Linked DNA regions of Homo sapiens. The protein of the gene in region 1 interacts with the protein of each later gene in a pairwise test. Each region holds a gene or a part of one and is shown in the gene's direction. Other genes may lie near its edges. The genes, in order: PPP3CA, ABI2, TRIM72 and DCPH1.

Region 1 (7,691 bases):
TGCATTTGTTTTGATAGAGATCCTGATGTGAGATGTGAAATGTGAAATTTTGTTTATAGAAGTTTTGTTGATGAATCCTGATTTTAAGGTGGATACACTGTTATTGTTTATCCTGTTTTCTTGTAGAATATTATTGGCATGAAAGGCATTATACAAGGTTGGATTCAACCTTTTGTCATACATAAGATTTTTATTATTAGTTATTTGAGATAATCTATTTTGATTATTAGCTTTCTGTGAAATAATATTTCCCCTTGAGTATGTATACACGTACTGAATGAATGGAAAGTACGCGTATGCTGGATGTGAAACATATTAACAAGTGATTTAATTTGCAAAAATTAGATAATATGGAGTTTAGAAACCATTATTTACTTGAAATTTTGTTAGAACTTCATCTCAATGGCTATTTAACTCATTCTTTAATACAGAAAAGAAATTATCTTTGAGGAAGTATTTGTGCTCCATAAGTTTTCTCTTTTTTACGAAGTATGTGTAGTATTATTTACTATATATACATACAAAAATAAATATTCAGATTGTTATTACCATGGCATGCCATGGCATTTGCTTACAGTTATATTTATTAGTGTCATCTGGCTTTTGTTGTATAAGAAATTGCTATTTACAAATAAAGATGTGCTTGTGGTTTGTAGTAATATGATGTGACTGTTTTCTTAATTGTACTTTTAGAATGCAGCTTTAGAGACGTAGGTTGAGTCTGTCTCAACTATGTTATTTTTGAGGTTTATAGAATCTGCTAGCATGTATTCAGAGACCCTGATCGGTTTTCTAAACCTTAAAAATGAAAGAGAATGATGGCAGTGGAGATGAAAAGTATTTGTTTAGATTATCCCAGGAGAGAAAGTTACTTCAGTTAGCAAAACTAGTGCTGTATCATTTTGACTCTTCTTGGATTAAAACAATGGAAAGTAGAAAAATTCAGAGAAAACATCTTGGTAATGACCTTTGCTGGAAATCAAAATAATATGGTCCGTTTATTGCTTTACATTATATTTTTAAAGATACATACAGCAAACCGAGGGCAATAAATAGAAGAATAACTGTCTTCCTCCCCTTGACCCCCGTCCTGATTTTTCTCTTAGTGATACTCTACAGGCCTTGTCTCAAACTTTGGCTTTTCTTCATTTCTCTCTGTTCCTGCCTAGAATGCTTTGTCTGGCCCTAGCATTCCCTATTGGTCATGGAACTTTGCTATGTGATAGTTAAAAATACTTAGAGGAAATTAAACCCTATGTGATAATGAGTATTTGGCTTTGTTAAATCTCTTAACCTACCTTCCCTCTGTTCCCATCTCCAAGTATTTTGTGATGGGACTTCTACCTTAACTCAAACCGATGGTAATGGTAGAAATTTTAGAAACTATGGGAGGCTGTTGAGGGATAAATTTCTGAGAAGAGTTTTGTGGAATCTCTCAGAAACTATAGATAATGCGTTGTTGTGCTTTGTGTAAGGTTGCTTTTGGCCATAGAGAATGAGCTGTTTTTCAGGTGTATTGCCAGCTTACGTACTTCATGTAGACAGAGTACACATAGGAGAATTCTGAAAGATGCTAAGATCATAGAAGCAAGAAGATGCTAGTTAAGTATTATTAAGTAAATAAGGATTCCAGCCACTAGTATTTCTAGCTGGGTGAGACTGATAATACTACTTAAAAAGAAAACAAATATGTCACATTCGTAGTAACTGTCGTGTTTAGACCTTGATGCAACAGAGTAGTAAATAATGTCATTTATTTGTGGTGTTCCAGGAAGAGCTTGTGAATTTATTTTACTGACATTTTGTTACCATCAGTTGAGTTTCATGTATCTGGTTTTCAATTTGAGTATAGTGAAACTTTATTAATTCAATATCATGAATTTAAATTTATTGTGAAAAAACACCAGTGTTTGTTGGCTGAAGTTTACATCAGCATTGGATGTGAAGAAAGGGGTCCGATAACCAAAAAGTATAAACAACATAGTTCCAGCATTGTTAATATACCAAGAGAACAAATTCTTTTCAATACTTAGTGAACAGTATGCAAATTCATCCTGTTCGTTACGAGTTAGGTTGGTCTATTTATTAACATTTCCTTTTGGGACTATTATAAAGTGAATATAACACAAGTGCATTGTTGTAAAAACATTCAGTAAATTTAATGATTAATGCAACAATTGAGACTGGGATTCAGGGGAATTCCAGTGATTCTAAAATGCCATCAATTAGAATAATCAACATTTTGAAGATAATAGTTTTTCTGAGAAGTGTGGGATAGAACCCTTATTTTAAATGGACAGTTTATCTTAAGACATCCAGTTAAAATAGGAAAAAATTAACATCTAGAATCTAATTAATGAGGTTTACTCTAAGATTTGTTTAAAAATATGCCTTTTAAAATCTATTTGTCTCTTTGTTTTATTTGTAATTTTAGCGAGATGAAATATAATTTTGATAGACCATTCATTTATAACTTTTGTAATTGGCCTCTCATGCTTTTCCTTATCTTTTTTTGTGTCAGCTATGTGTAAATTTGAAACTAATTATGACACCAAATAAAGAATCCATTTAGGGTGACCTCATTGGAAAACAGCATTTTTGCAGATACTCACTCTCCTTTTAGCAAATATGGTTAAATTACCATTTTGAATACTTCTAGAACTATGAAGAATGGTGGTGATTCATGATATAGAATTTTGATAATTACTAAAAATCATTTTGTCAATTTTTTTCCAGCAACTTTCTGATGTAGCAGTCTCTTGATATACAAGAGGGATATGGTGAGACCTTGAACTTCAGCTTTCTGTAATTCCACTGGTATATGTTATAACTTCACAGGCTAACTTTCTCTATACATAAAAGGGGAGTAATTGTATCCACTGTCAACTTGTGAGGACCGAAGGATAATCAAATGGGAAATGGGGAGTGTGTGGTTAACACTTTGTCCACTGCCTGGTAATGGCGATTCAGTCACTGCTAACACAGAATTAGAAATGACACGTGTTATGTATTTTCTGGTCACCTGAGAATAGTCAGAACCATTAGCATTGAAAGCCATGAGTGCCTTGGGTCAAGAGTAGCTTATGATGACATTTATTTTTATAGTTAAAGAAGTGGAGACAGAATAGATAGAATGGTTACAGGTAAGTGTAAACACATTATTTTCTTTATTAAAGAGGCTTTTCTTGCTTGAAAACATTTTTGAAAATTGCCACTGGCCAGGTGTGGTGGCTCACACCTATAATCCTAGCACTTTGGGATGCTGAGGTGGAAGCTTGGGCAACATAGCAAGACCATATCTCTTAAAAAAAAAAAAAAGAAAAAGAAAAAAAGAAAATGGCCACTTCTTTTGGTATATTTAAGATATCTTCACATTTCATTTCGCATTTTGTTTTACTAAATAATTAACTATGTAAAATAGTTTGATTAGGAGAGGAAGCTTTTTATATTTCTGTTTTTAGCAGACATCAAATTCTGGTGATAAATATTATAATTTAGTCTGACCTTGGCCTGAGGTTTATAAAGAAATACTGTTAAACATTGCTTTCTGTTCAGGTAAATATATACACAGAAATAGAATAGTATACTCTCCTGCAAAAGAATGTTATTTACTTTCATTTTGAAGGATGTTGTCTTAAGCCTGTTTTTCTGAACTCCACTTAATGACCCACACTGATGCTCTGGTTTGACAAACAAAATCTTCAGATTTGATGATTTTGTTAATTTCTAGAGCAGGCTCAGGTGAAAATATCAGCCAGTGATTCTGAGGTGTTGCATTCCTATTTTTAAAGCAGTCATTAGGTAGGACTGATGTAGGCAATGAAATAGGATTTCAGTTTGTAAATTAAGTCTTTAGTACTCTTGACATTTTCAGCATTTTAAAATCATTTTATTTTACAATAATTCCATCTTTTATATGAATCCATCAATTATATTTCATATGAGAAGTGAAATAACAATTGTGTATTCCTCCATGGTTAGGGGTTCTGAATAATGGCTTAAATCAGATGGGTTATCAACTTTATGACCTAGCCCAGTTGCTGGTATCTCAAATCCGTTTTAACAAATATGCACTCGGGTAGTGGAAGCTTTAGATATTAAAAAAATAAAAGCCCTCACTGACAAAGTGGCAATAAATTATTAAAATGCTATGTTTTTGGAATTCAGGTAGATTCTTTTTGAGACCATCATAGAGAGGAATAGAACTTTGCTGTCCTTTTTGTTTTCCTTATCCATGCTTTTGTCTCACAGCAAAATATACTATGACTCTATTTTAAAAAATGGTCTACCTGTCTGTGAACTTCTGTCTCTTGCAACTGGAAATTTTGCTTGTGTCTGTCTGCAAAAGAGGGAAACAAATAGATATCAGGGATTTATAAAAGCTATCTCAATATTATGACATACTAGTTTACAATGTTTGTCAATTTCAGGTACTTTTGACAACTGTGAAACCGGAAGAATGATGGTTGATGTTCAAAGAGAGAGTTTTATTTATATGGAGCTAAATTAAAAAAATTTTCATCAGCTCTAAGATTCTTAGACTTAGAGTCTTTCTGTGGTGATTTTATTGTCCCAGTTTTCCTTTCTTTGGGGAAGAATTAGTAGTAGTTTTTATTTAAAATGTCCAGTTCTTTCTATGTAATATCAGAATGTTTTGGAAATTCTAGTATGTCAGTGTCTAAACTATGTGTCTTGGTTGCTGCATATACTTGGAAGTTGCATAAAATTGTTAATATTTGTATTCAGAGTTTTAGTTTGGAAAAAATGGTCATTGTCTTATTGGTCCCTAGCTCAATGCCTTGCTTATTAAATGCACTGAATAAATTCTTTTGAATGAGATGGATATTGTAAAATTCTCATGTGCCTCCTGAAGCCTTCTAAATTGTTTTTATTTTGAGTGTATTATATTAAGTTCCATTTGTAACTGGTTCTGTATGGTGACTGGCGAATTGGAGTGCTTCTTTCTCCAGCCCAATCAGGGCATGGAGTATGAGAAGGAGGCATTAATAAGGTTACACAATTAGAATGAGAGCTGTTCTGTTCGGTCACTTGAACTCACTTTGTCCCTGCTGAATGTAAAAGGCTAAGTTCTATTCAATTTAATTTATTTGCTTGAACCTGACAGCTGTCTTTCAGTTTTTATTGTATTCCCCTTTAGGCTGGTCAATTTCTGACAAATGAGAAAAAATATGTTAATCACTGAGTGTTTGATTATTGGATGATTTGTGTATTTTAGTTATTGTCTAGATTTGGACTTGAAGATAAAATGACCTGGTAAATTTCATGAAAAAGAACAAATTGGAAAAAACCTCTTTCCCTGTTTACATCTCAATATATCATTTCCTATAATGCTTCTGTAATCCAGAAATGCTGCCTTCTCCAACATGACCTCCTTCCCTTCTCTGGCCCCCAAAATGTCATTGGATGCCATCCAGTGGAAAGATACATGGGCTATGAAAAGTTAAGAAAAAGGTGGCACTAACGCTGCTGTCTCCTTAGATTCTCACAAGTGGGCTTTGAGCCATCCGTTGACATTTGTTTTTAAAACATCTTGTAAGTTATGCTGTTTTATCAAGTTAAATTAAAAGCAAGATATATTCTTAAAAAGATGGAACCTGAGTCAGGAATTCAAGTTTGTTTTATTTTTTGTTTGCTTTTTACAAAGGAATTTGATTTTAAAAAATGATAAATCTGGCATTGTTGGTTCATGTATATTTAATGCTATTAAAGTTACACACATTCCTGTTCTGCTGGGCCTGATTATTGGGATAACAAATGTTCTCCTGATCATTCAGTTCTCTTCTTTCGAGCTTCAGTTCAGAAGTTACCTCCTTTGAGACCTGCATCTCCTGACACCTTCACTTAGAATAAAGGAATTGAGCCTCTTCCTTCTCACAGAGGACACCTTGATAAGAGCATGTTGCTGTGATGACTTGTTTCCTTGTCTGCCTCTCCTCCCCAGGAGGTGGAAAGTCCTAGAGACAGAAGTTCTATCTACTTTTGTGTCTTTAGCTCTAGCACAGGGCCTGCTGTAGAATAGGCATTTGATACATAGTTGTTACAGGAATGAAATAACAAAGGATAAGATGGATTTAAATTTCTAAATTATGGGGTTCCTTTATGTTTTGAAATTTTGTCAATCTTAAATCGTGATCAGTACACAAATGTCTGATGAGTCTTGACTTGTAAGCTCCAGTCTTTGTAGAAGTGTGTTTTCCTGTGAGTTTTTGAAGTGCTGTATTTTATTAACTGGCATTATATGGATTTTGCTCGGTAGCCAGCATGCAGAAGCATAACTGGCAGAAGTGGCCTTCCCATAGGGAGTGCTTGACTTTTAATGGATTATTGTCACAAGGTGTATAGGTTGATTTCCTCAAAGGTGAGTGATGGTTTCTTTCTCAGGAAGACAGGTGATGATACTAAATTGAGGGGAGAGCCATTTGACAAGCATATGGGAGGCCCATATTAGTCTTCACAATGTGCAAATTCAAATGAATAAAAATGTATAAGATTAGGAATTAGAACAGAGATTAAAACATACTGTACACCCCGATAGGTGATAACTTACTGTGTATATACCAATAAAAAATCTTCAGGCCCATCACGAGTACAGGCTGCTCATGAGTCACCTCTCCTGATGGCATGTCTGCATGGTGAGTGTTTTTAGAAAAGCTCAGTACTGGACTCCACACCAACAGAGTGGCAGTATAGTGAGGCACTTGCTCTTAGTCCCATCCTTACAGAAGACCGCTAAAGCTGCGCTACCCCAGATGTGGTTGTATGACTTCTGGTTAAAGAAAGCCAGCTGGGCCTTTCCAAGCTCCATTTTATTTTTGTTCTGAATGAATATTTCCAGTCTCTCACATGGGCCGGGATATACTTTGTCTCACTAACACAGAAATACTTTCATTTCAAAGAGTTGAAGACTAAGGAAACTATAGTTTCCTACATAAAATCTCACTGTTAGCTTCTGTTGATTTGCATTCAGCAACCAGGAGGGAATCTCTGTTGTCCTCGCCTCTGGTCAGAATTCTCCCTGAGTACTCTATCTCGTTCCACGTGCCCTTCCAGAAACGGATGTGTTAAATTTTGGAGTATGTTTTACAAAACAGTCCCCAAGATGATTAAAGGACTTTAAATAAATTGTGACAGGAAGTGAGAGATTATTCAGTCTGAACAAAAAAGGGTGAGTGGTGATTTAACTAGAGGCTTCAAATATTAGAAAGTCTCTTTCTGTAGTGGATCATACTCAGAAGTTGTTCATCACCCCAGTCAACTAAAGAAGAGAAAATATTTAGAAGCATCAGAGAATTAGGTGATTTTTAAAAAAATTTAACCAGTTAGGGGCATTTAACATTGGGATGGTTTATGGGAATCTTCTGAATGGAGAGAATAGATGATTCTTATTTATTTTTGTTGTAAATGTGAACTTTATGTGTGCTGAAGAATAGTCTAAGCCTAAAATTATGGCATTTTGAAGCTGGAAGGAACCATGGAAATCTAATTTTCTGTCTGGCTCAGAACCCTCTATTTGCTGGGGAGAAGGATTGGGGGATGTAGGGGAGACCTTTGATCTCTTACACTTGCTCATGCCTGAATTTAGGCCTACAAATGAGACTCCCAGAATTGGAAGGTACACCAGAATTCTAGCTTAGGCTATCTCTAATGTGGAACTCCCTCTCCAGCCTCTC
Region 2 (7,691 bases), on another chromosome or scaffold:
ATCAGCAGTTTTCTTTTTAAATATTTTATACATTTCCTTCAGTTGAAAAGAGAAAAACGTTACTACTATCAATCTCTGTTTTAGCAATGGGACTCAAAATTTAGTGTGGTGACATTTTAAAATTTAAAGCATAAATATTGATTAATATTAATTTAATAGAAATGAACTTAGATTTTAAAATAGTTTATTTCTTCAGTTTAGCATCTGAAGTATATTTTACACTTTCTCTTTTTTGATTATCATTTATTTTAGGATGCCTTAGGTATATAATTGGTACACTCTCAGGATGATAGCTCTTATATGATTTGTTGATTTGTTGGGAAAGTTGATAAATAGAACGTGGTGACAGTGGATTTGTGCTGATCCAGCTGTACATTTGGTTGACCAGCAGGGGTTTTGATGCTGCCTGGACCCTGCAGTAGATGAAAGTTAATTCACAGGATCAGTGATCAAATGGTCAATTTAGCCTTTTTTTTTTTTTTTTTTTTCTGAGACAGAGTCTCACTCTGTCGCCCAGGCTAGAGTGTAGTGGCGCGATCTCGATCTCTGCTCACTGCAACCTCCGCCTCCTGGGTTCAAGCGATTCTTCTGCCTCAGCCTTCCAAGTAGCTGGGACTACAGGTGTGTACCACCATGCCTGGCTAATTTTTGTATTTTTAGTAGAGACGGGATTTCCCCATTTTGGCCAGGCTGGTCTGGAACTCCTGGCCTCAGATGATCGACCTGCCTTGGCCTCCCCAAAGTGTTGGGATTACAGGCGTGAGCCACCGCACCTGGCCAATTTAGCCTTATTATAGCATCATGTCTTAGCCACTAGCTCGAGTTAACTAACCCAACACTCATTTTATTGTGTGGAAATGTAATTTTTGCCTATAAAGTAGAAAAAAATCTGTTTATCATGTGTAATAAGTGTTTTTGCTCAGTGTTCTTTTTTTTTTTTTTTTTTTGACACAGAGTTTCACTCTGTCGCCCAGGCTGGAGTGCAGTGGCGCGATCTCAGCTCACTGCAACCTTCGTCCCCCGGGTTCAAGTGATTGTCCTGCCTCAGCCTCCCGAGTAGCTGGGATTACAGGCACGTGCCAACACGCCCAGCTAATTTTTGTATTTTTGGTAGAGATGGGGTTTTGCCATGTTGGCCAGGCTAGTCTCAAACTCCTGACCCCAGATGACCCACCCACCTCGGCCTCCCAAAGTGCTAGGATTACAGGCGTGAGCCACCGTGCCTGGCCCCCTAAGAGTCATTTTTAATAAAAATTTAGATAGTTTCATTATTCTAACCTCTAGAAAATGGGATAGTCAATATTTTTTCTAAAATATGATAAACAGGTATAACTACAGTTTGCTGATATTTATCAGATCAATTTTATTTCTTGCCTATACAAAGGATTTAGTAGTTGGTAGAGACTTTTTTTTGAGATACATGTAAGACCTGCGTTTTTCTTCATTTATTAATATACACACCTAGGCCGGGCACGGTGGCCCACGCCTGTAATCCCAGCACTTTGGGAGGCCGAGGCAGGCACATCACGAGATCAGGAGATCCAGACCATCCTGGCCAACATGGTGAAACCGCGTATCTACTAAAAATACAAAAATTAGCTGGCTATGGTGGCGTGTGCCTGTAGTCCCAGCTACTTGGGAGGCTGAGATGGGAGAATCACTTGAACCTGGGAAGCGGAGGTTGCAGTGAGCCAAGATCATGCCATTGCACTCCAGCCTGGGCGACAGAGCAAGACTCTGTCTCAAAAAAACAAAAATTACACATATAATGCCTAATATGTTTGAAGGTGTCCAGGAATTAAAAATGTTTTGGTTAACTTGGAATCTACGTTTTTACAAATAGAAGAATTTTTATTACAATATAGTTGTCTTAATGTTTTGGTAGATGAAATAACTCCCTATTTGTTACTTCCCTGAAATCTGAAAAGCCAACTTGTTGATATGTACGTTTTTCTTTTTGTTAGATAAAAGTTACTGATTTTTGTGAGTGACAGTTCACATAGATGCATAGTAAAATCTTATTGTTTGGATTAAGAGTAGAATCATCCCATAATATGGATTTATTCAAAAGAGAAGAAATTAAGAACTTACCTTAAATTTTTACCTGAAATATTTTTGAACAATAGGAGACATATTAGTAGCTTTCCTTTTCTTCTCTTAATCAATGTGGATACTCCCAGAGTTCACTAAAAACTTCATGAGAGGTTTACAAGGGAATATTATCAGTCAGTTTCATCAAAAGTAATTACCAAAATGATACAAAGATTTAAAATTTTTATTTAATAAAAATCATTAGAATACATGCTCATTGTTGAAAAATTATTGGAGAATACAAGTAGGTATTATGAAAGAAATGGAAAATTGCCCGATCATCTTGAATATATATCTGGTACTCATACTTTTAAATATTTTTTGTATGCACAACTATATATCAATATTTTTGTAGAAATGGGTTTATGTTCTATATTCTGTACCTTTAAAAGAACCTTTTAAGGATGCTGGGCTTGACTTTTTTTTAAATGGATGTCATATACTATATTGGGAGGAGGTTGGTTATATTTATAGGTCGAGTTCTGTATGTTCTTGCAAATGGGAGAATCTTAGAATACCTAGAATGAAGGAGAAAGAGGTCAGTTGAGAGTAAGGAGACTGAGTAGAATTTGGGAGACTGAATTCCCCATAGATTAAGATGACTCAACTCATTTGAAATTGATCAAGGCTTACCATTCCTCAAGAAATTAGTCCCTAACTCTCAGCAGAGACATTTGGTGAATAGATTTTCAGTGACAAATCAGTCATCTTCAAGACCTTTGACAAGATTGCAAAAACAGGCTAATTTATATTTGAGCCCCTTGCTCTTTTAAACATTTTGTCATTTGTACACTTCCTACACCTTCTTGTCCAAGGAACTTAAGTGACCTCATAATTTCCGTTATTGATCCAGGAAATCCAGTCTCACCTCATTTCACCCTTCCTTGAAGAGCTTCCTGGTTCAAAATTGCTCTTTACCAAAATAATTAATTAATAAACTGTTCATTTATTTTTTCTTTTCTTTTTTCTTTCTTTTTTTTTTTTTTTGAGATGGAGTCTCACTCCTTTGCCCAGGTTAGAGTGCAGTGGCGTGATCTTCGCTCACTACAACCTCCGGCTCCTGGGTTCAAGCAATTCTCCTGCTTCAGCCTCCTGAGTAGTTGGGACTACAGGCATGTGTCAGCATACCCAGCTAATTTTTGTATTTTTAGTAAAGACAGGGTTTCTCCATGTTGGCCAGGCTGGTCTCGAATTCCTGACCTCAAGTGATCCACCCGCCTTGGCCTTCCACAGTGCTGGGATTACAGGTGTGAGCCATCGTGCCCAGCCTCATTTACTTTTTCTTCTTACCTTGGTATGGGTAATGTGAGAATGTATGATAGGTTTACTTTATTTAGAGTCATCTTTTCTCACCCAGAGAATAATATATAAACCAAATTGGTTTACTTATGTGTAAAATATGTAGTAGAGATATTTTTGAGCATGAGGTGCTTTTGGTGTTACTTTTTCTTTTAAAATGCAGGGAATTTAATAGTATGCAGTTTCAGGGTGTGTAAGGTAATCTTTTGGTGGATGAAATATATTTGGTGGATGAATATGCTGTGATTTGCTTACACCCACCCCAAATCCATTTTGCAGCACCCTACTCACTGTCCAGAGATTCTGGGAAAAAAACAATAGAGAAGACAAAGCCAGTCTAGACACCATTTGACTCTACCTTGTGAATATTCTGAAAGTTACATTAGGCTAGTTGTAGATTTTTTTTTTTTTTGAGACAGAGTCTCTGTCGCCCAGGCTGGAGTACAGTGGTGCGATCTCAGCTTACTGCAACCTCTGCCTCCTGGGTTCAAGCAATTCTCCTGTCTCAGCTTCCTGAGTAGCTGGGATTACAGGTGCACGCCACCACGCCTGGCTAATTTTTGTATTTTTAGTAGAGACGGGGTTTCACCGTATTGGCCAGGCTGGTCTCGAGATCCTGACCTTAGGTGATCCGCCCGCCTCGGCCTCCCAAAGTGCTGGGATTACAGCGTAAGCCACCGTGCCTGGCCTAGTTGTAGACTTTTGATAGCTTATGGTTGAATTTTTATGGGATTGGTTAATAGATTGGATTCATGAGGTAGCATGTAGGGCAACACATTCTATTTTGGATTTTTCATTTACTTTGTGTTTCCTTCCAGATACGAAGCTCCTAGAAGATGGAGTCATTTCTTAAAAATTTCTATATTTTCCCATTAGCCGTAGGATGTTCTCCATATACTAGCCACTCATTAAATAGTTGCTGAATGTAAGAAATACAGACTTGAATATGCAAGAGCCTATGCACTGAATTATTTTTATTTTATTACTTTATTTTATTTTATTTTTTGAGACAGGGTCTCACTCTGTCACTCAGGCTGGAGTGTAGTAGCACGATTATGGGTCACTGCAGCTTGCACTCCCAAGCTCAAACAGTCTTCACACTTCAGCTCCCAAAGTAGCTGGGACTACAGGCTTGTGCCACCATGCCCAGCTAATTTTTTTTGTTGTTGTTGTTAGAAATGGGATCTCACTATGTTGCTCCGGCTGGTCTTGGAACACCTGGGCTCAAGCAATTCTCCTGCCTTGGCTTCCCAAAGTGCTGGGATTACACCTGTCAGCCGCCATGCCTGGCCTTGAATTATTTTATAAGTAGGATATAATTACATGTAAATTTACCTTGCAAGTTTTTTCCTATTTGATTTTTTGGTGACATTTATGTTCTGTAAAGTTTTGCAGTACTTTTCATATTTGCATAATTCATGCAAGGAACATAGTTTTGCTTTTTTCTTCTTAAGTAATATACTTTGTAGAAAATTTGGATGAGGTAACAGCTTTGTTTTGAATCATTTACAACATGAATTTTTTCTCATTTGATTTTTAAAGTCAGGTTTATTGAGTTTTAATACATATATGGTACAAGTCACCCTTTTTAGGTGTAAAGGTTTATGAATTACAATAAACTTACATAGTCATGTAACCACCACAATGTAAAATTTTCCTTGTACCCTCTGTAGTCAGTCCTGTCCCTCCACTACTAGCCTTTGGTAAACACTGATATATTTTCTGTCCCTCTAGTTTTTGCCTTTTCCAGAATGCCATATAAGGGGCATTATGTAGTATATAGCCTTTTGTGTTTGACTTCTTGGTACTAGAAGTCCTAATACATTTGAAAATCATCAGTGTTATTGTGTTTTGTCAGTACTTTGTTCCTTCTTATTACTGAGTAATATTCTAGAGTATGAAAGAATCATAATTTGTTCATCCATTCACCAACTGATGGATTTCTGGATTGTTTCTAGTTTTAGGCAGTGGTGAATATGGCTGTAAACATTTGTATACAGGTGTTGGTGCAACCTAAGTCTTCACTCTTTTGGGTAAATTTAAGGGAAAAGATCAACTGTTGTACCCTGGTAACAGTGGATGTATCCACATAGGCTGCATAGGCCAGTGCTTGAACTGCATCTGATCTGAATCTTGGCCGAGCACTTTGTGATCCTCTTGGAATATAAGATTATGGAAGTTTGCGAGGACCTTATGTGAAGCCCTTTCTCAATCTCTTCATCTGCCGAGGAGGCTGTACGTGATAACAGTGCCTCATCACCTCCTAGTTCCCATGAGATGAGGCTCTCTATTGTACCCTTTTAGGTAGTAGCTGCAGGCTGTAAGACTTTAGTTGCAGCATGGCATTGGCTCCTCCGCAACAGAGTGTCATATCTATGTTGTAGTCACCTGGCTCCTTTTGTTTTAGTATTGCTTTACACAAGGGCTGTATCTTTTACTACTATTCCTTCTGCCCTCCATGTAAATGGTAGGCTTTCTGAACCTAACAAGCAGTTGGGCAGGTCTATCACATTGCCTTCTCTTTGCCTTGACAATAAATATCTAATAGTGGGATTATTACCGTATGGTAAATGTGTGTTTAGTTTTATACAAATTGCCAAACTCTTTTCCAAAAACGATGGTACCGTTTTGCGTTCCCACCAGCAAAGATCCAGTTGTTCTTCATCTTTGTCAGCATTTGGTTTTGTCAGGTTTTAAAATTTTAGCTATTCTCTTGTTAGTGATGTCTCAAAGGCCATATATGACAAGCCTACAACTAACATCATACTCAACCATGAAAAGTTGAAACCTTTTCCTCTAAGATCAGGAATAAGACAGTGGTGCCCAGTGTCACTAGTTCTATTTAATCAAGTACTGCAAAGTACTAGAAGTCCTAGCCAGCCAGTTAGGAAAGAAAAATAAACAAAAGGCATCAAAATTGGAAGAAGTTAAATTGTCTCTGTTTGCAAATGACATGATTCCTTATGTATACAAAACCCTAAAGACTCCACCAAAAGACTGTTAGAATTAATTAACGAATTTAGTAAAGTTGTAGGAGACAAGATCAACATACAAAAATCTGTTGTGTTTCTACATATTAACTACAAACGATCTGAAAAATTAAGAAAACATTTCCATTTATAACAGCAGAAAGAATAGAATACTTAGGAATAAATGTAATCAAGGAGGTGAAAGGTCTGTACACTAAAAACTATAAGACATTTATGAAAGTAATTGAAGAACATGCAAATAAATGGGAAGATATCCCGTGCTCATGAATTGGTAGATTTGATATTGTTAACATGTCCATACTACACAAAGCCATCTACAGATTTAATGCAATCTCTATCAATATTCCAATGGTATTTTTCACAAAAATAGAAAAACCCTAAAATTCATAGGAAACCACAAAATACTTTGAATAGCCAAAGCAGTTTTGAATAAGAACAAAGTTGGAGGTATCATACTTCCTGATTTCAAACTATATTACAAAGCTATAGGCCTGGCATGGTGGTTCATGCTTGTTATCCCAGCAGTTTGGGAGGCCTAGGTAGCCAGATCACCTGAGGTCAGGAGTTCAAGACCAGCCTGGCCAGCGTGGAGAAACCTCATCTCTACTAAAAATACAAAAATTATAGGGCATGCTGGCACACGCCTGTAGTCCCAGCTACTCAGGAGGCTGAGTTGGGAGAATCGCTTGAACCCAGGAAGTGGAGGTTGCAGTGAGCTGAGATCATGCCACTGCACTCCATCCTGGGCAACAGAGCGAGACTCTGTCTCAAAAAAAGCTATAGTAATCAAAACAGTGTGTTACTGGCATAAAAGACATGTAGACTAATGGAACAGAATGGAGCCCGGAAATGTAGCCACATCTGTGCAGTCAACTAAGCTTTGATAAAGGCACCAGGTACACAATGGGGAAAGGATAATTCAGTAAATGGTATTGGGAAAACTATATCCACATGCAAAAGAATGAAATTTGATTGTTATATCACACATACAAATTAGCTAGAAATGGATTAAAGACTTAAATGTAAGATCTGAAATTATAAAACTCTTTGGTATGGGTCAGATGTTTGTTCCCTTCAAATCTCTTGTTGAAATGTGATTCCCAGTGTTGGAGGTGGGTCTTGGTGGGAGATAATTGGATTATGGGGGCAGATCCCTCATGAATGATGTAGCACCATCCCTTTAGTGATAAGTGAGTTCTTGCTTGGTTCACGTGAGAACTGGTTGTTTAAAATTAGTCTGGGAGCCCCCCCACCATGTGACATGCTGGCTCCACTTCTGCCATGATTACACCTCACCAGAAGTACGTGCCA
Region 3 (8,533 bases), on another chromosome or scaffold:
AAGCGACTTGCCCAAGGTCACACAACAAGGAAATTCTAGTCAGGACTGGAACCTGGAAGTGACAGTCACTGCTTCCTAAGCCCTTGGGTGCCAGCACACTGTCCCTGTTTATGTGGCATATTTTTTTTTCTTTCTTTTTTTTTTTTTTTTTTTGAGACTGAGTTTTGTTCTTATTGCCCAGGCTGGAGTTCAATGGCTCGATCTCAGCTCACTGCAACCTCTGCCTCCTGAGTTCAAGCAATTCTCCTGCCTCAGCCCCCCAAGTAGCTGGCGTTACAGGCACCAGCCACCATGCCCAGCTAATTTTATAATTTTAGTAGAGATGGGGTTTCACCATGTTGGTCAGGCTGGTCTTGAACTCCTGACCTCAAGTGATCCCCCCACCTCGGCCTCCCAAAGAGCTGGGATTACAGGTGTGAGCCACTGCACCCGGCCTATGTGGCATATTTTTCAGTTTAATCCTCATGACAACTCTATGGGATGGTTTTTTTTTTCTTTTCTTTCTGAGACAGGGTTCAAGCAATTCTCCTGGCTCAGCCTTTGGAGTAGCTGGGACTATGGGACTACAGGCGTGAGCCACTATACTGTTTTGTTTGTTTGTTTGTTTTTGGTAGAGACGGGGGTCTCGCTGTGTTGTCCAGGTTGGTCTTGAACTTCTGGACTCAAGTGATCCTCCCACCTTGGCCTCCCAAAGTGCTGGGATTACAGGTGTGAGCCACCACACCCAGCCAGGATGGTGTTATTTATCCACATATTGTATTTGAACGTGCTGAGGCCCAGAGAGGCAGGTGATTTTCCCAGGGGTGCCCAGCATGAGCTCATGAAGTCAGCATTCAGGACTTGCTTCTGTAGCAGCCCTGACTAGGGCTTTCTGGCCTCTCTCTGCATGTACCCAATAATTAGGAGCTCTTACCTTCCAAGGCACTCATTGCTTGAGCTGTTGGGAAACTTTCCCTTAGGACAAGCTGAAATCTATCCCTAGCTCTTTAGGTCTGAGGGACCTCATAGGGCCAGCTATACCGGTTTACCACTCCCTCCTTCCCTGCACATGGCTTATTGCCTCTTCTTGTTCTCAGTCTGCTTAAGACAATCAATGTTCCTTCCGTGGATCAGAGGCCAGTCCTGGCCCATCTGCAGGGAAGGATTGAATTGACTATCACCCACCTGTCTTAGACACCCACTCCTATAGATGACAGCAGGACCTTCAGTCCCAACTTGGCAATATTGGAAACTCTGGATGAGATTTAAGTTCTGGAAGTTGAGTTTTTGAGCATGAGCAACTTGTGGTTTCAGAGACCAGCTCCAGATATACCCTCTTTCAAACCTCTTCCTATTGCTAACACAAGGCTGCGTCTGAGCCATCAAGAATGGAAGAGAAGAAATCAGGGGCTTTTAGCCAGGCATGGTGGTGAACACCTGCGGTCCCCGTTACTCAGGAGGCTGAGGTGGGAGGATCACTTTAGCCTGGGAGGTCGAGGCTGTAGTGAGCTATGATTATAACATTGCACTCCAGCCTGGGCGACACAGTGAGACCTCAGAGACTTAAGGACAAAGAAGGTGGGGACACAAAACTCCCCTGGATTTCTCAGTGTGCCGGTAAAGAGCGCCAGCTTTGGCCGGGCGCAGTGGCTCATGCCTGTAATCCCAGCACTTTGGGAGGCCGAGGCAGGCGGATCACGAGGTCAGGAGATCGAGACCATCCTGGCCAACATGGTGAAACCCTGTCTCTACTAAAAATACAAAAAATTAGCCAGGCGTGGTGGCAGGCGCCTGTAGTCCCAGCTACTCGGGAGGCTGAGGCAGGAGAATGGCGTGAACCCAGGAGGGCGGAGCTTGCAGTGAGCCGAGATCTCATCACTGCATTCCAGCCTGGGCGACAAAGCGACACTCCGTCTCAAAAAAACAAAAAAACAAAAAAACAAAAAAAAAAAAAGGAAAAGAAAAAAAAAAGAGCACCAGCTTCCTGAGACTTTTCACATCTTAATTTCAGAATTTTATCTGCAGTCATTTATACAGGTAATTGCTCTTATCCAAAAGAATAATAGAACTTTTTTTCCTCCTAAAAGAACCAAATGTTTACAGCCTGAACGAGGGCCTAGGTTAAACAAGGTGTCAGGCAGCCTGAAGTAGCTACCTTCTTAAGCAGGCCAGCAGAAGTTCATGCTGTCACCACATAACATGCAAGAAGGAATGAGCGGTCGGGTGTGGTGGCTCATGCCTGGAATCCCAGCACTTTGGGAGGCCGAGGCGGGTGGATCACCTGAGGTCAGGAGTTCGAGACCAGCCTGGACAACATGGTGAAACCCCGTCTCTACTAAAAATACAAAAATTAGCTGGGCGTGGTGGCACGTGCCTATAATCCCAGCTACTCGGGAGGCTGAGGCAGGAGAATCGCTTGAACCTGGGAAGTGGAGGTTGCAGTAAGCCGAGATTGTACCACTGCACTCCAGCCTGGGCGACAGAGCAAGACTCCATTTCAAAAAAAAAAAAAAAAAGAAAAAGAAAAAATTAAGAACCTAAGAGACAGGCAAAGGGAGAGTCCAAAGGGGAGATTAAGAGAGTGAAACAGAAACAAAAATTCATTCTGAGAGAGACAGCAGTTGAGAGAGGAAAGAGTAAAACCAGGAAAAGGTTTGAGGGAAGCTAAGAGAAAGATGGAGAGGCCAAATGAGAGGGACTGAGTTTGCGTGTTTATTCATTCACCTAGTATCTGTAGAGCGCCTAATGTGTGTCACACACTTTAGTCTAAGCTGGAGACAAGCAGTAAACACAATTTCTATTCCGTAGGAAGAGACAGACAAGAAACCAGCAAACAAGTAGAATACATTGCATGTCAGATGCTGATAAATGTTATGGAGAAAAGGAAAGCCAGGCAGTGAGATGTTGGGGAGTTAGGAGATTTAAAATCAGGGAATTGGGAGAGGTCTTGCTGGAAAGGTAATATTGAGCAAAGTCTGAGGGAGGAAAAAGAGGATGCCATGCAGTACCTGGGTTGGAGAGTGTTCCAGGCAGAGGGGACCGTAAGTGCAAAGTCCCTGATGCCGAGTGATCAATGGGGAAAGGGGTGATAAAAGAGTCAGAGTGATTAATGGGGTCATAGCAGATAGGGCTTTGTAAGCCACAGTTAGCACTTTGGTTTTTATTCTAGATGAAATTTCTTTCTTTTCTTTTTTTTAATATTTATTGTTTTTTTTGAGACGGAGTTTTGCTCTTGTTGCCCATGCTGGAGTGCAATGGCATGATCTTGGCTCACTGCAACCTCTGCTTCCCAGGTTCAAGCAATCCTCCCATCTCAGCCTCCCGAGCAGCTGGGACTACAGGTGTTCTTCACCATGCCCAGCTATTTTTTTTGAGTTGGAGTTTCGCTCTTGTCACCCAGGCTGGAGTCCAGTGGTGCGATCTCGGTTCACTGCAACCTCTGCCTCCCGGGTTCAAGCGATTCTCCTGCCTCAGCCTCCCAAGTAGCTGGGATTACAGGTACCTGCCACCACACCCGGCTGAGTTTTGTATGTTTCATAGAGACGAAGTTTAACCATGTTGGCCAGGCTGGTCTCAAACTCCTGACCTCAAGTGATCCACCCGCCTGGGCCCCCCAAAGTGCTGGGATTACAGGTGTGAGCCATTGTGCCTGGCCCTTGCCAACTTTTTAATGGGGTTGTTTTCTGCTTGTTGAAATGTTTAGTTTCTTTATATATTCTGGATAGTAGATCTTTGTTGGATGCATAGTTTGTGAATATTTTCTTCCATTCTTTTTTTTTGAGACGGAGTCTCACTCTGTACCCCAGGCTGGAGTGCAGTGGCGCGATCTCGGCTCACTGCAAGCTCCGTCTCCCGGGTTCACACCATTCTCCTGCCTCAGCCTCCTGAGTAGCTGGGATTACAGGTGCCCGCCACTGCGCCCGGCTAATTTTTTGTATTTTTAGTAGAGACGGGGTTTCACTGTGGTCTCGATCTCCTGACCTCATGATCCACCCGCCTTGGCCTCCCAAGAGTGCTGGGATTACAGGCGTGAGCCACCGCGCCTGGCCTTTCTTCCATTCTTCAGTTGTCTGTCTGTTGATAGTTGCTTTTGCTTTTGCTGTGCAGAAGCTCTTTAGTTTAATGAGGTCCCACTTAACAATTTTTGTTTTTGTTGCTTTTGAGGACTTAGTCAAGAATTCTTTACCAAGGCTGATATCCAGAATAGTATTTCTCCTGCGGTTTCTTCTATGATTTTTATGGTTTGAAGTCTTACATTTAAATCTTTAACCCATCTTGAGTTAATTTTTTTTATATGGTGAAAGGTAGGGGTCCAGTTTCATTCTCTTGCATAAGGCTAGCCAGTTATCCCAGCGCCACTTAAATGAAATTTCAGCTGAGATTTGAAAGATACACATACAGGAACCAGGGCAGAATTGAGTTCTGGGCTGCAGGCTCTGGATTCAGTTCATTCATTTGTTCAATGTCTCTCTATCATTCATTCTCCAAGCATTTAGAGAGGCCTACTTTGTCCCAGGCTTGTCCTGGGTGTACTAGAGAGACCAAAGTGGAAAAGACCCTCCCCTCAGCTCTGGAGGAAGAAAACATTTCAGGGTGGGGTGAGGTCCTGCCCTCCTGCAGGTGGGGTAATCCTGCCAGGGTGACCTTGGTCAGCCATAAACTTGGGGAATGAGTGGGTGACAGGCTGGGGAGGGGCTGCCAGCAAGGAGGAAGGAGCTGGAGAGTGTGGAGGTGGGAGTGGGGGGAGAAAGGGCAGACCCCCTTCAATTTTCTGTCTTTTCTGTGGTGTGAAAGGCCCTGGCTCCCCGCTGGCTCTGAGCTCTGACTCCAGGCAGGCCGGGGAGAGAACAGTGGATGGGCCAAGACAGGTGGCCCTGTCATGTGATGTGTGCCCAGGGACTACTCAGCCCTCACTTTTAGAACGGTTTCCGGAAGTGATGGGAGGGATTGGGCAGGGCAGCTAAATATAGTCCTGGGGCCATGGCTCAGTCTGGGAGGGTCTTCCGCTGAGCACTGTGTGCCCATCACGCGTGGTGTCCACTGCCAGCTGCCCCTGTGAGTCCCTGTCCTTGCTTGGAGCCTGCTGCTTGTCTCAGATCCTTGGACCCAGCCCTGACCCCAGTCCAGCTAAGCTCAACCCTGACCGGTCCTCCTTCGAGACTCTTTCAGCCTAAGATCTCCAACCAGACCTGTGAGTCCCGTGGGCTGGAGAGAGGGGGAGGGGAGGTCTGGGTATCTTGGTAAAGTGAGGGAGGGGAGTCTCGGAGTGGGGGCTCTGGAGAATTTGGGTCCGGGACTAAGGTCAGAGGCTGAGGCCTGGGGCTAAGGCGAGGGCAAGGACAGTGGGCTAGAATCTGGGCTTGTGTTCAGGAACTGGGGTTGACTGATAGGGCATATTTTTGGGGTTGGAGCTGAGAATTGCAGTGGAGGCTGCTTTTGGGCCTGAGACCGAGTTCCTCTTTCCCCTTGGCCGTCAGAGTCCCATCCAGTGTAGGATGTGAGGTCTTTACAGGCTGGGGCTTCTCCCTGCGGGGCGGCGGGCCCGGCCTGGGCTAGGGCTGGGCCAGGGCTGGGCCGGGAGCGCGGCGCCGCGGGGTCCCCCTAACCTACTCCTCCTCCACCCAGGCCCGCCATGTCGGCTGCGCCCGGCCTCCTGCACCAGGAGCTGTCCTGCCCGCTGTGCCTGCAGCTGTTCGACGCGCCCGTGACAGCCGAGTGCGGCCACAGTTTCTGCCGCGCCTGCCTAGGCCGCGTGGCCGGGGAGCCGGCGGCGGATGGCACCGTTCTCTGCCCCTGCTGCCAGGCCCCCACGCGGCCGCAGGCACTCAGCACCAACCTGCAGCTGGCGCGCCTGGTGGAGGGGCTGGCCCAGGTGCCGCAGGGCCACTGCGAGGAGCACCTGGACCCGCTGAGCATCTACTGCGAGCAGGACCGCGCGCTGGTGTGCGGAGTGTGCGCCTCACTCGGCTCGCACCGCGGTCATCGCCTCCTGCCTGCCGCCGAGGCCCACGCACGCCTCAAGGTGCGGGATCCGCGCGCATCGTGGTCGGAGGGGCTGTTCGGTGGCACGGGGCCGATGGGGAGGTCGCTGCAGTGATTTGGATTCTGAGTCTCTAGAGAGGCTCACGAGCTCCTGGAGTTGCGGGGGGCGGGGGCGGGGCGAAGCAGCCAGGAAAGAGGGTCTGAGGAGCTTAAGGCGGGGCTGGCAGAGGAAAGCCGCGCAGGGATGGAGCCTGGCGATAAGGGCGCTGAGCAAACGTAGGTTTCCCGGCCTTAGTCCCTAGAGGAAACTGGAGATGGGCGGGCGGAGCCCCAGGGCGGGTCTGATGGGCCGGGCGGAGCCAGGCGGAGCAGGGACTGACCAGCCCCTGCGGCCCACGCTCGCATTCCTGCACCCGGTGGGCCGTTCGGGCTGGCTCCCTGCTCGGCGCTGGCCCACTTTGGACTGGAGGCGCGGCGTTCGGGACCGAGCCAGGCGGCCGGGGCAGGGTTGTCCCCTTGTGCTCAGCGGAGGCCCACGCACCCCTGAAGCTGCGGAACTTGGGCTGGCCTGACGGTCCCCAGGCGGGGCCTCACCAGAAGGGAGACTGTAAGGGCTAGGCAGCCGGGATCTGCACTTATGTGTGCGGGCCCAGGGTGGCACCGAGAGCCCCGTCCAGGATGTTTTTCTGGGTGGAGCTGGAAGTCCCGAAAGCCTTGGGAGCCCACACGCAGTTGTGCGCGTCCCGAAGTACCCAGCAGAGACACCCAGACAGAGGCAAATAGAGACGAACGCACACTGGCTGGTGCGTGTCATCCGTGTGGCAAAAGCACACACGTATAGCTACCGGCGGGCACGTGTGCGCGCAGCCCCAGTAAAGTCTGCCATGAATATTTATTGGGCAGTGGAAGAATAAATGACAGGTGCAGGGGCTGGAGGAGGCGGGGTCTGGAGGCACGGAGGCGTCCTTGGTCCCCGAGGTGGAGACACTGCTGTTGTCTTACGCGACTGGTGCGCGCGTGGGGCTGGCTTCACAGGCGTTGCATTACTCCTTTTGCCTTGACCCGCCTCCTAGAAGGGGTAGACCACCGTCCTTTCGTTGGTATTCGAGGCCCCCAGACTTCCCAGGGACCCAGCCTCTCAGTCCTGCCTGGCCCAGTTCAGCCCAGTCCTAGCTGGTGGTCTCCTAGCTCAGGGCAGGAGCCTCCTCCCGGGACCCCTCCCATCCCAGCACACCTGTGCTTAAGACCCCAACCTCAGGGCAACCCGCTCGGATCCCCTTCCATGCTGTGGAAGCTTTGTTCTTTTGCTCTTTGCAATAAATCTTGCTGCCGCTAAAAAAAAAACAAAAAACAAACAAACAAAAAAAACCCAACCTCGCCCAACCTTGCCCGTCTTTATCTGCGAAGAAAGCACAGAACCCATGAAACGGAACAGGGCCCAGGCAGCCCAGGAGCCTGGAAGGGGGCAGTGGGGCGAGATGCAGCCCACCAGGGTTCGCGGCAGCCCAGCCCTTCGCCCCCGGGAGGGGCTGGCCGGAGGTCTGAGGGAGGACCCCAGGAGGGACCCTGAAGGAGGGGAACAGGAAGGCTCTGGGCGGGACCTGACGCGTGGGTCCTTGGCGAGGAAGCGGGGTTGGGTCCCGAGATCACGTACCAGCTCAGAGTGGCCCTCACGCAGCCCGCTGCAGCCGTGCGGCCTCCTCCAACATGCGCATGTCGCGCAGCACGGCCACGACGAGCTCGGCTGCGTAGTCCTCGTAGTAGGAGGCGACCAGCTTGTCGGTGAGGTCCACGATATCTAGCTGCCCGAGCGCGCCCCGCGGGATGCGCTCAAAGCCCTCGCGCAGCGGCACCGTCCCCAGCTTCATCTTGAACTTCTTGAGCTCCTCCGGTGTCAGGTTCTCCAGCACCTTCAGGATGGCCTCGCGCTTCGTTCCCATGGCTCAGCCCTGCGCCTCTGAGCCTCCGAGGGCCTGGAGCCATCAGGTCCTACCTTTCCTGCAGCAGGTGGAGCTGCCGCCCCCGGGGATGTCCCGGGAAGGAGACTGATCTGGCAGCTCCTATTCAACCCTGTGGCTCCTGCTGGGAGGGGACTCTGCAAACACCGCCTAGAGGGTCCCCCAGTTTCCCCTGGGAGAGTGGGGGCGCCAAATTGTTGAGGTGGGGATTGCTGTTCCCAATCTGCAGAGGAGGAAACAGGTTGCAAGTCATTGAGGCAGGAATGGAACTGATTCCATGGTCAGGCACCTCCCAGCAAAGAAGTGGCTTTGTAGCCTGGCATGGTTGCTCATGCTTGTAGTGCCAGCTACTCGGGAGGCTGAAGCAAAAGGATTGCTTGAGCCTAGGAGTTCGAGTTGTGATTCTGCCACTGCACTCCAGCCTAGGCAATCCTGTCTCCAAAAAAAAAAAAAAAAAAAAAAAAAATGGCTTTGGCAGGAGTATTGGGAGCTCTCCTATATTTGCATATTTGCATTTGAGGTCTTGGGTAAGATCTAGACCACAGAATGGTTGGTCTGTGCAGGGGACATTTTTTTTTTTTTTTTTGAAATGCAGTCTTGCTCTGTCGCCCAGG
Region 4 (7,691 bases), on another chromosome or scaffold:
CATTACTCCTCAAGGATAACCATTGTTCTGACCTGTGTTAGTTTTGCCTGTTTTTTAACTTTACTGAAATGAAATGATACAGTGTATAGTTTTGTGTCTGGCTTCTTTCACTCATTTTTATGTTTGTGAGACTCATCCATATGTTACAATATAATTATAGATCATTCATTCTCATTGCTTTATAATATTGCATTTTATGAGCATATTACAATCTGTTTACTTCGTTGTGATGGATATTTGAGTACTTTTCAGTTTGGAGTTGTTAGGAAGAATGCTGCTATAAACATTCTGACACTTTTTTGCTGAACATATGTATGAATACATCTGTTGGATATATCCCTCCCTAGAAGTGAATCACTGGGTCATAGTGTGTGTACATACACAGCTTTAGTAGATTCTAAAATAGAAAACATTCTAAAATGAGAATTTATATATAGTTATGTGAGTTTACTCTCTTAAATACGAAAATAAGGCTCATTCTTAATATGAGATGTGACTTTAATGAATGGTTTGTTAATAAAACATTAGAACATGTTTTATTAGAACTTTCTGTAAAGGGCCAGGTAGTAAATCTTTTAGGCATAGGGGCCATGTGGTCTCTGTTGCAGCTGCCGAACCTGCCATTGTCGTGTGAATGCAACCTTAAATAATATGTAAGAATGAGCATGGCTGTGTTCTAAAGAAACTTTATTCAGCGGACACCGAAATTTGAATTTCATGTGTTACAAAATACTACTTTTCTTTCACTTTGTTTTCAGCCATTCAAAAATATAAAAACCACTCTTAGCATGTGAGTCAGACAGAACAGGTGGTGGGCCGGATTGGGTCTGTGCATCCGAATGATTTTTATCCTTTTAAGTCACCTTGAGAGACTGACTGATTTCAGCGGTGCTGCCATTGCTAAAACCATCTTTGAATTATTTGGAACTTCTTTCAGAGCCAGTTTACATGCCTCAAAATGAAAATTAGTCTTCCTGTATTTTTACTCATTTTTGATTAAAAAAAAAGTTTTTATCCAATTTGATCACACACCTCATTCTACTGAAATCACTCCGAGTGACTTTTGGCTGTTTCCAAAAATAAATTGACTCCAAAGGATGAAGATATGTGATCACTGACAGGAGGTTTAATGATGTGCCATAGGTTCTGAAGAAAATTCCTAAAGAGGAATTCCAAAAGTGCTCTGAGCAATGGCAGCGCCCTTGGAATAAGGGTGTAGCTTCCCGAGGTGACTGACTGGCTGGAAGGAGGCAGCCATCATTTGGATGTTTAAATACTGGTATGTTATTTAAAAAAACAAAACAAAACAAATCAAGCCGATTACATCAGTGTTAGATTGTTTTTACCCTAACATGAATGACCCATGGAAAAAGTAGCTAATTTGGAAGACCCAATAATCTGAATGTCTTTTATATTCAATTCAGTAAAGATTATTATATTAGTATTTATATCTCCTTAGTTATGATTTTCTTAGGCCAATATAATATGATTTAATCTCTCACTGGAAAACATGAAGGTGTAGCCATGCCACATATATCACCTTTGGTTAAAGTTGCCCAAAAATACCTAAAATTAGTGATAAAAAATTATCATTCTTCTAAAACTTACAATAGTATTGTCTGATTTATCTTAAGTACTCATTGTATTTCCATCATACTCTGTGTTTCATTCTGTTAATGATTGCTGCATTGTATTCAAATATTCTGTTTATATTCTATACATTTGTTACTGGAACTCTGCCACATCGGTGGTTAAAAAATGTTTGTTGAACTAAAGCAGTTGTCTTGAAATTTATCTTTCTCCTTCTTGTGCCCTGGAATCCCTGCTAGGTAGATAATTATGAGCATAGTCACTATCACTATTTAATATGTCCAGAAAAATACTTGATTTGGGAACTTTTTTGACAATTAAAATGAGTTTGAGAGATTTTTGTGTAATTTGATTATTTAGTATTAAGTTTTTCTAGTTAATTAGATAAATGTTATATCTAGTTTCTGTTAGCACTGATTATTGAGACTGTATGGTGCTATTTTCTTTCAAGAACTGCAGTTATCCAAATGTACAAACTAAAATGTTTCACTTTGTTTTTCTCCTACTTTAGTCCACCAATCGATTACTTTGATGTATTTAAAGAATCAAAAGAGCAAAATTTCTATGGGTCACAGGAATCCATCATTGCTTTATGTACTCACCTGCAACAATTGATAAGAACTATTGAAGACCTAGATGAAAATCAGCTGAAAGATGAGTTTTTTAAACTTCTGCAGGTAAATGTGATCATTAATCTTCTGAGTATGTTTTATTTAAACAGAAAATAAACTGCTATACAGTTAACAAAACATGTAAATATTTTTCTTTGCTATAATTGATGATTTTTTATCTAGTGGTGTTAAAAGATGAAAATCCATTTAATTGCTAGAAATGGGTTTGAAATATTTTTCTGCTCTCACTGGCTATGATTTTAGTGGCAAAGAAGTTATCTGACTTCCTAGCTTCTGTCATACTTGAGAGAATACTTCATAGTAATTTGCTTAGCTTTTGTCATGCTTGAAAGAATTCTTAATAGTAATTTGGTCTCCCAGCTGACTTGGGTGTGTGTTGGCTCTGTGGCTAATTTGTGTTTGGACCTGAGGCCTGTCACTTAATTTCTCTGGGCCTCAGTTTCCTCCTCTGTTCAGTGAGGATAATGTGTACTGTGTAATTTGATGTGAGAATTCAACTAGATGCTTGCATGTGAAGTGCTGAGCACAGAGCCTGGGATACAGCCTGCTGTTAGCATCGGTAGGTGATAATACTCGGGTATTCAGTTGGCCCATTAATACAGTTTCATTACATTTCTTTATCTTGTATTCAGTTTAGTTTTTAATTCATGCAAACATCCTGAAATTTACAACACATTATTAGAATCAGAACTATTAGGAGACGTGGTACACAGCAGTATCCCCAGCCCTCACATTTTCCAGAAAAAGTGAGGAAGACTTTCAAAAAGAAATGTTAGAAAGTGCTATGAAGAGAAATAAAGCAGGAAAAGGGCGTTGGGAATGTTGGAGAAGGGATCAGGGCTGCCAGGGAAGGGTCCATGGAGGCTGAGGCCACAGACCTGAAGGCAGGGAAGGAGTAAGTCAGGTGTATGTCTGCGGAGTACATGGAGAGGTGAGAAAAATTGCAAGGAAACCCTGTAGTTACTGAGAGGTAGCGGGGTGGAAGGGACACAGAACGGCTTGTATTAAATAAATTTTTACTAAAAGTGAAACAGAAGCCATCAGAGGGTTTTGAACAGAGAGGTAATGCTATTTGACTATTTCAAGGAATGTTTCTGAGAATAGACTGCAGGGGCTGAAGGTGGAAATGGGGAGAGCTGGTCTGAAAATGACTTGGGGAGGGAGGTTGGGGCCAAGTTGGTAGCATAAGAGTTAGTGACATCACCAGAGCCTGGGTGTTCTTTGAACATAGAAGCTACAGAACTTGCTAACAGATTATACCTGGAGACGAAGCCCTGGTGAGACCCCGAGGGCAAGCAAAGTCACAAATAAAGGCATATTTTGAGTTCAAAACAAAAATTGTCAGGACATTGTTTTGTTTTTTGAGACAGAGTCTCGCTCTGTTGCCCAGGTTGTAGTGCAGTGGCACGATCTCAGCTCACTGCAACCTCCGTCTCCCGGGTTTAAGCAATTCTCCTGCCTCAGCCTCCTGAGTAGCTGGAATTACAGGCGTATGCCACCACACCTGGCTAATTTTTGTATTTTTAGTAGAGACTGGGTTTCGCCATGTTGGCCAGGCTGGTCTTGAACTCCTGACCTCAGGTGATCTGCCCACCTTGGCCTCCCAAAGTGCTGGGATTATAGGCATGAGCCACCTTGCCTGGCCCAGGACATTGTTAACTAATAAACCTTGTTTTTTGTTTTTTCCTGTTAACTCTGCCTTATGCTTAGCCTTGGAATTAAAAAAAAAAAGACTGGCATGCTAGTTCTTGACTCCTAGCTAGCCCATTCTTTCAGGGAATCATCTTCTTTGAATGTGTTCTTTGTCCCATAGTATAATAAACTATGAAGAAGAATGAGCATGCATCTATTTTCTGTCATCTGATTTAGCTAACAACTTCTTCACACTGTCACTGTGCTCCCAAGTGAAGGGGGCCAGAGTTGCCTCCATTTGGTGTCCGCAGTGAGCAACAGGTTAACGTTTCAAGGGAAGCTTGAAAACATTCTCGTTTTCAGAGAATGTTGATCTCTTTCAAAAGTCATAGCACTCTCCCACTGTCGACACACACATTTCTGGGGCTACTGTGTCAAATGCCATTCTAGGTGCTGGGCACGTAGTGGTAAAACAAGAACAGGCTGATCCTCCCTATCAAAACTTGTAATCTTGAGGGAATATAGACAATGAAGTAATTGCACAAAGAGCTATGCCATTACAAACTGGAAGACGGTGTGAAGGGAAAGTGCAGGAGGCTAGCACAGAACCTGCTCTCAGTCGCTGAAGGCCATCGTGGACACCATTGTATGAATTTCTTCAGGAAACTCTAGAAAAAGGTGACCTTGGACACTTTAGTTATTATTTAAGCCTTTTTTTTAAAAAAAATTTATTCATTTATCTCTTTTTAAAATAATACTGTTCGGCCGGGCATGGTGGCTCACACCTGTAATCCCAGCACTCTGGGAGGCCGAGGTGGGCAGATCACCTGAGGCCAGGAGTTTGAGACCAGCCTGGCTAACATGGTAAAACCCCATCTCTACTAAAAATACAAAAAATTAGCCAGGCGTGGTGGTGGGCGGCTGTAATCCCAGCTACTTGGGAGGCTGAGGCAGGAGAAAAGCTTGAACCCGTGAGGCAGAGGTGCAGTGAGCCAAGATCGCACCACCGCACTCCAGCCTCGGTGACAGAGGAGACTCTATCTCAAAAAAAAAAAAAACAAAACCCTATTGGTTGGAACATGCATTCTCCTTATTTTAAATCACAAATGAGGGCCTGACAAGGTGGCTCATGCTTATAATCTCAGCATTTTGGGAGGCCACGGCAGGAGGATTGCTGGAGGCCAGGAGATGGAAATTAGCCTGGTCAACATAGTGAGACCCCATCTTTATTAAAAAAAAAATCACAAATGAGAGTAGAGTCTGTTTTGGCTAGTGTTTATTGAGTACTTCTATATGCCAGGTATTTGGTACATTATTTACATGCATTATATCAATTCTCACAATAATTCTGTGAGGTAAGTACTAGTATCTCGTTTTTCAGTTGCAGGACTTGAGCCTTAGAGAGCTTAAGTAATTTGTTGATGATCATAAACTGAAGATGCTGAGTTTGAACCCAGGTCGAGCTGGAAGTCCTAAACGTGTAATTTTATGGCTTAAAAAAAAATAGGCCTACATACTGTTTTTCTACAAAATGTAATTGAGTATTAATTCAATTTAAAGCTGAATAAGATAATTGATTACAATGGGTCTTTAGTTAACATGACCTTGTTTAAAAAGTAGCGTCTTTAGATATCACTTTGTTCAGTTTTTTAAATTTTACAAATGAGAGAACCAAATCCCAGAGAGGTGTCACGTCCTAAGGTTATGCAATTAGTGAAAGAAACTGGACAGTTCTGCAGGGCCAAGGAGGAAAAAATAAACTTTTATTTCTTCTCTTGACTCTGGATTATATGGGCAACTTTGAGCCTCTCTTCACACATCCGATGATGTTCTAATATCTGCAAGCTGCAAAAACTTTTATTCTGAATAAACAATGTGAGTGCTGAAATAATTGAAACCAGTTTTTTTAAGTCCATTACATACTGATGAATTAAAAATTTCAGTTTTATCTTGTTAATACAGCATCATGTGAAATAATTTTTGTGCATTGTTAGAGAAAGTATAGATTTGATGGTCATGTAAAGAGTTTTGTAGATATTTAGTAGTTTTTTAGCAATGTCCCCCCATCCCGCTACATAATGGAGTTTTGTTGGCTATTCAGAAGAAGGGTGAATATTTTGTACTTTTTCTTTTTCAGATTTCACTGTGGGGAAATAAGTGTGATCTGTCTCTCTCAGGTGGAGAAAGTAGTTCTCAGAATACCAATGTACTAAATTCATTGGAAGACCTAAAACCTTTCATTTTATTGAATGATATGGAACATCTTTGGTCATTGCTTAGCAATTGCAAGAAAACAAGAGAAAAAGCTTCTGCTACTAGAGTGTATATTGTTCTCGATAATTCTGGATTTGAGCTTGTTACAGATTTAATATTAGCCGACTTCTTGTTGTCCTCTGAACTGGCTACTGAGGTTCATTTTTATGGAAAAACAATTCCATGGTTTGTTTCTGATACTACTATACATGATTTTAATTGGTTAATTGAACAGGTAAAACACAGTAATCATAAGTGGATGTCCAAGTGTGGGGCTGACTGGGAAGAGTATATTAAAATGGGTAAATGGGTTTACCACAATCATATATTTTGGACTCTGCCTCATGAGTACTGTGCAATGCCTCAGGTTGCACCTGACTTATATGCTGAACTACAGAAGGCACATTTAATTTTATTCAAGGGTGATTTGAATTACAGGAAGTTGACAGGTGACAGAAAATGGGAGTTTTCTGTTCCATTTCATCAGGCTCTGAATGGCTTCCATCCTGCACCACTCTGTACCATAAGAACATTAAAAGCTGAAATTCAGGTTGGTCTGCAGCCTGGGCAAGGGGAACAGCTCCTGGCCTCTGAGCCCAGCTGGTGGACCACTGGAAAATATGGAATATTTCAGTACGATGGTCCCCTTTGACTTGATTTAGGAGCTCTCAGTTGCATAGAAAGATCTGGTGAGCACCTTTTCATCCCCAGAAAAGGAGCACGTGAATTGAGTCGCCTGGCGGCTCTGTACGCGCTCAGGGAAGCTTAGCTTCTTGGTGCCCATCTACGTGCACTGGATGATTTTTCTTTTGAACATTTTGCCCCACTACACTGTTTTGGGGATAGCTGGGTTAAGCAAGTTAAAGATATTTACATTTATATTGGAATTTTAGCAACTTTTTTTCAGGTTAAATATATAATTTCAAGTGCTTTTAATGAACTTATTTTTAATTGGCTAGGGAGCAAAAAATAAGTGAGTTCTGCTTTTAGTTAGTTAACCTTGTTCTTTTCTTAAATAGTACACTGCATGGTATTTAATATTCCAGGAAGCATGGGATTTTATTTTGCTTGATTTTGGGCACATGAAATAATAGCTCTAGGAAAATGCGCATCTTAATGACTCTTTGTAAAGAGAGGCATTTCTTACAACTGTGATGTTTGCTTACATAAAAGTTACCTCATAAGTTAATTCTAACTTTTATTCTTGAATTTTATTTCATTTCAATAGCTTGTTTCATTTGCACGCCTTTGTATTTTGATTGACCTGTAGAATGGATGTTAGGAAACTCAAAATTGAACACAGTGAAACAAATGGTATTTGAAGAAATGTAATATCTTTTATATTCTATTTATGATATCCATAATCAAATGAGATTATTTTACCACATAAATGTTTTAAATATCAGATTTTTAGTTTGCAGTTTTAGGAAAATGCTTTAGATAGAAAAGGTTCTTATGCATTGAATTTGGAGTACTACCAACAATGAATGAATTTATTTTTTATATTCTTACACATTTTATTGGTCATTGTCACAGATAGTAAATACTAAAAATTTCAGGTCAGTTTGTTTTGAAACTGAAATT

The links.
Region 2: the proteins of PPP3CA (region 1) and ABI2 interact in binary tests that used the Homo sapiens proteins (3 or more experiments, as listed by UniProt).
Region 3: the proteins of PPP3CA (region 1) and TRIM72 interact in binary tests that used the Homo sapiens proteins (3 or more experiments, as listed by UniProt).
Region 4: the proteins of PPP3CA (region 1) and DCPH1 interact in binary tests that used the Homo sapiens proteins (3 or more experiments, as listed by UniProt).

What each region holds. Positions count from the first base shown.
Region 1 is NC_000004.12:101,336,836-101,344,526, reverse strand, and holds part of PPP3CA (protein phosphatase 3 catalytic subunit alpha), read left to right. Parts: intron 1-7,691. UniProt on the Homo sapiens protein: Calcium-dependent, calmodulin-stimulated protein phosphatase which plays an essential role in the transduction of intracellular Ca(2+)-mediated signals. Many of the substrates contain a PxIxIT motif and/or a LxVP motif.
Region 2 is NC_000002.12:203,330,881-203,338,571, forward strand, and holds part of ABI2 (abl interactor 2), read left to right. Parts: intron 1-7,691. UniProt on the Homo sapiens protein: Regulator of actin cytoskeleton dynamics underlying cell motility and adhesion. Functions as a component of the WAVE complex, which activates actin nucleating machinery Arp2/3 to drive lamellipodia formation.
Region 3 is NC_000016.10:31,209,128-31,217,660, forward strand, and holds the start of TRIM72 (tripartite motif-containing protein 72), read left to right. Parts: upstream 1-4,991; 5' UTR 4,992-5,170; intron 5,171-5,604; 5' UTR 5,605-5,611; coding exon 5,612-6,001; intron 6,002-6,834; exon of another isoform or gene 6,835-7,030; intron 7,031-7,615; exon of another isoform or gene 7,616-7,631; coding exon of another isoform or gene 7,632-7,901; exon of another isoform or gene 7,902-8,008; intron 8,009-8,533. Other genes in the region: PYDC1 (pyrin domain-containing protein 1), read right to left, coding at 7,632-7,901. UniProt on the Homo sapiens protein: Muscle-specific E3 ubiquitin-protein ligase that plays a central role in cell membrane repair by nucleating the assembly of the repair machinery at injury sites.
Region 4 is NC_000006.12:151,462,352-151,470,042, forward strand, and holds part of DCPH1 (damage-control phosphatase ARMT1), read left to right. Parts: intron 1-2,101; coding exon 2,102-2,267; intron 2,268-5,991; coding exon 5,992-6,759; 3' UTR 6,760-7,691. UniProt on the Homo sapiens protein: Metal-dependent phosphatase that shows phosphatase activity against several substrates, including fructose-1-phosphate and fructose-6-phosphate.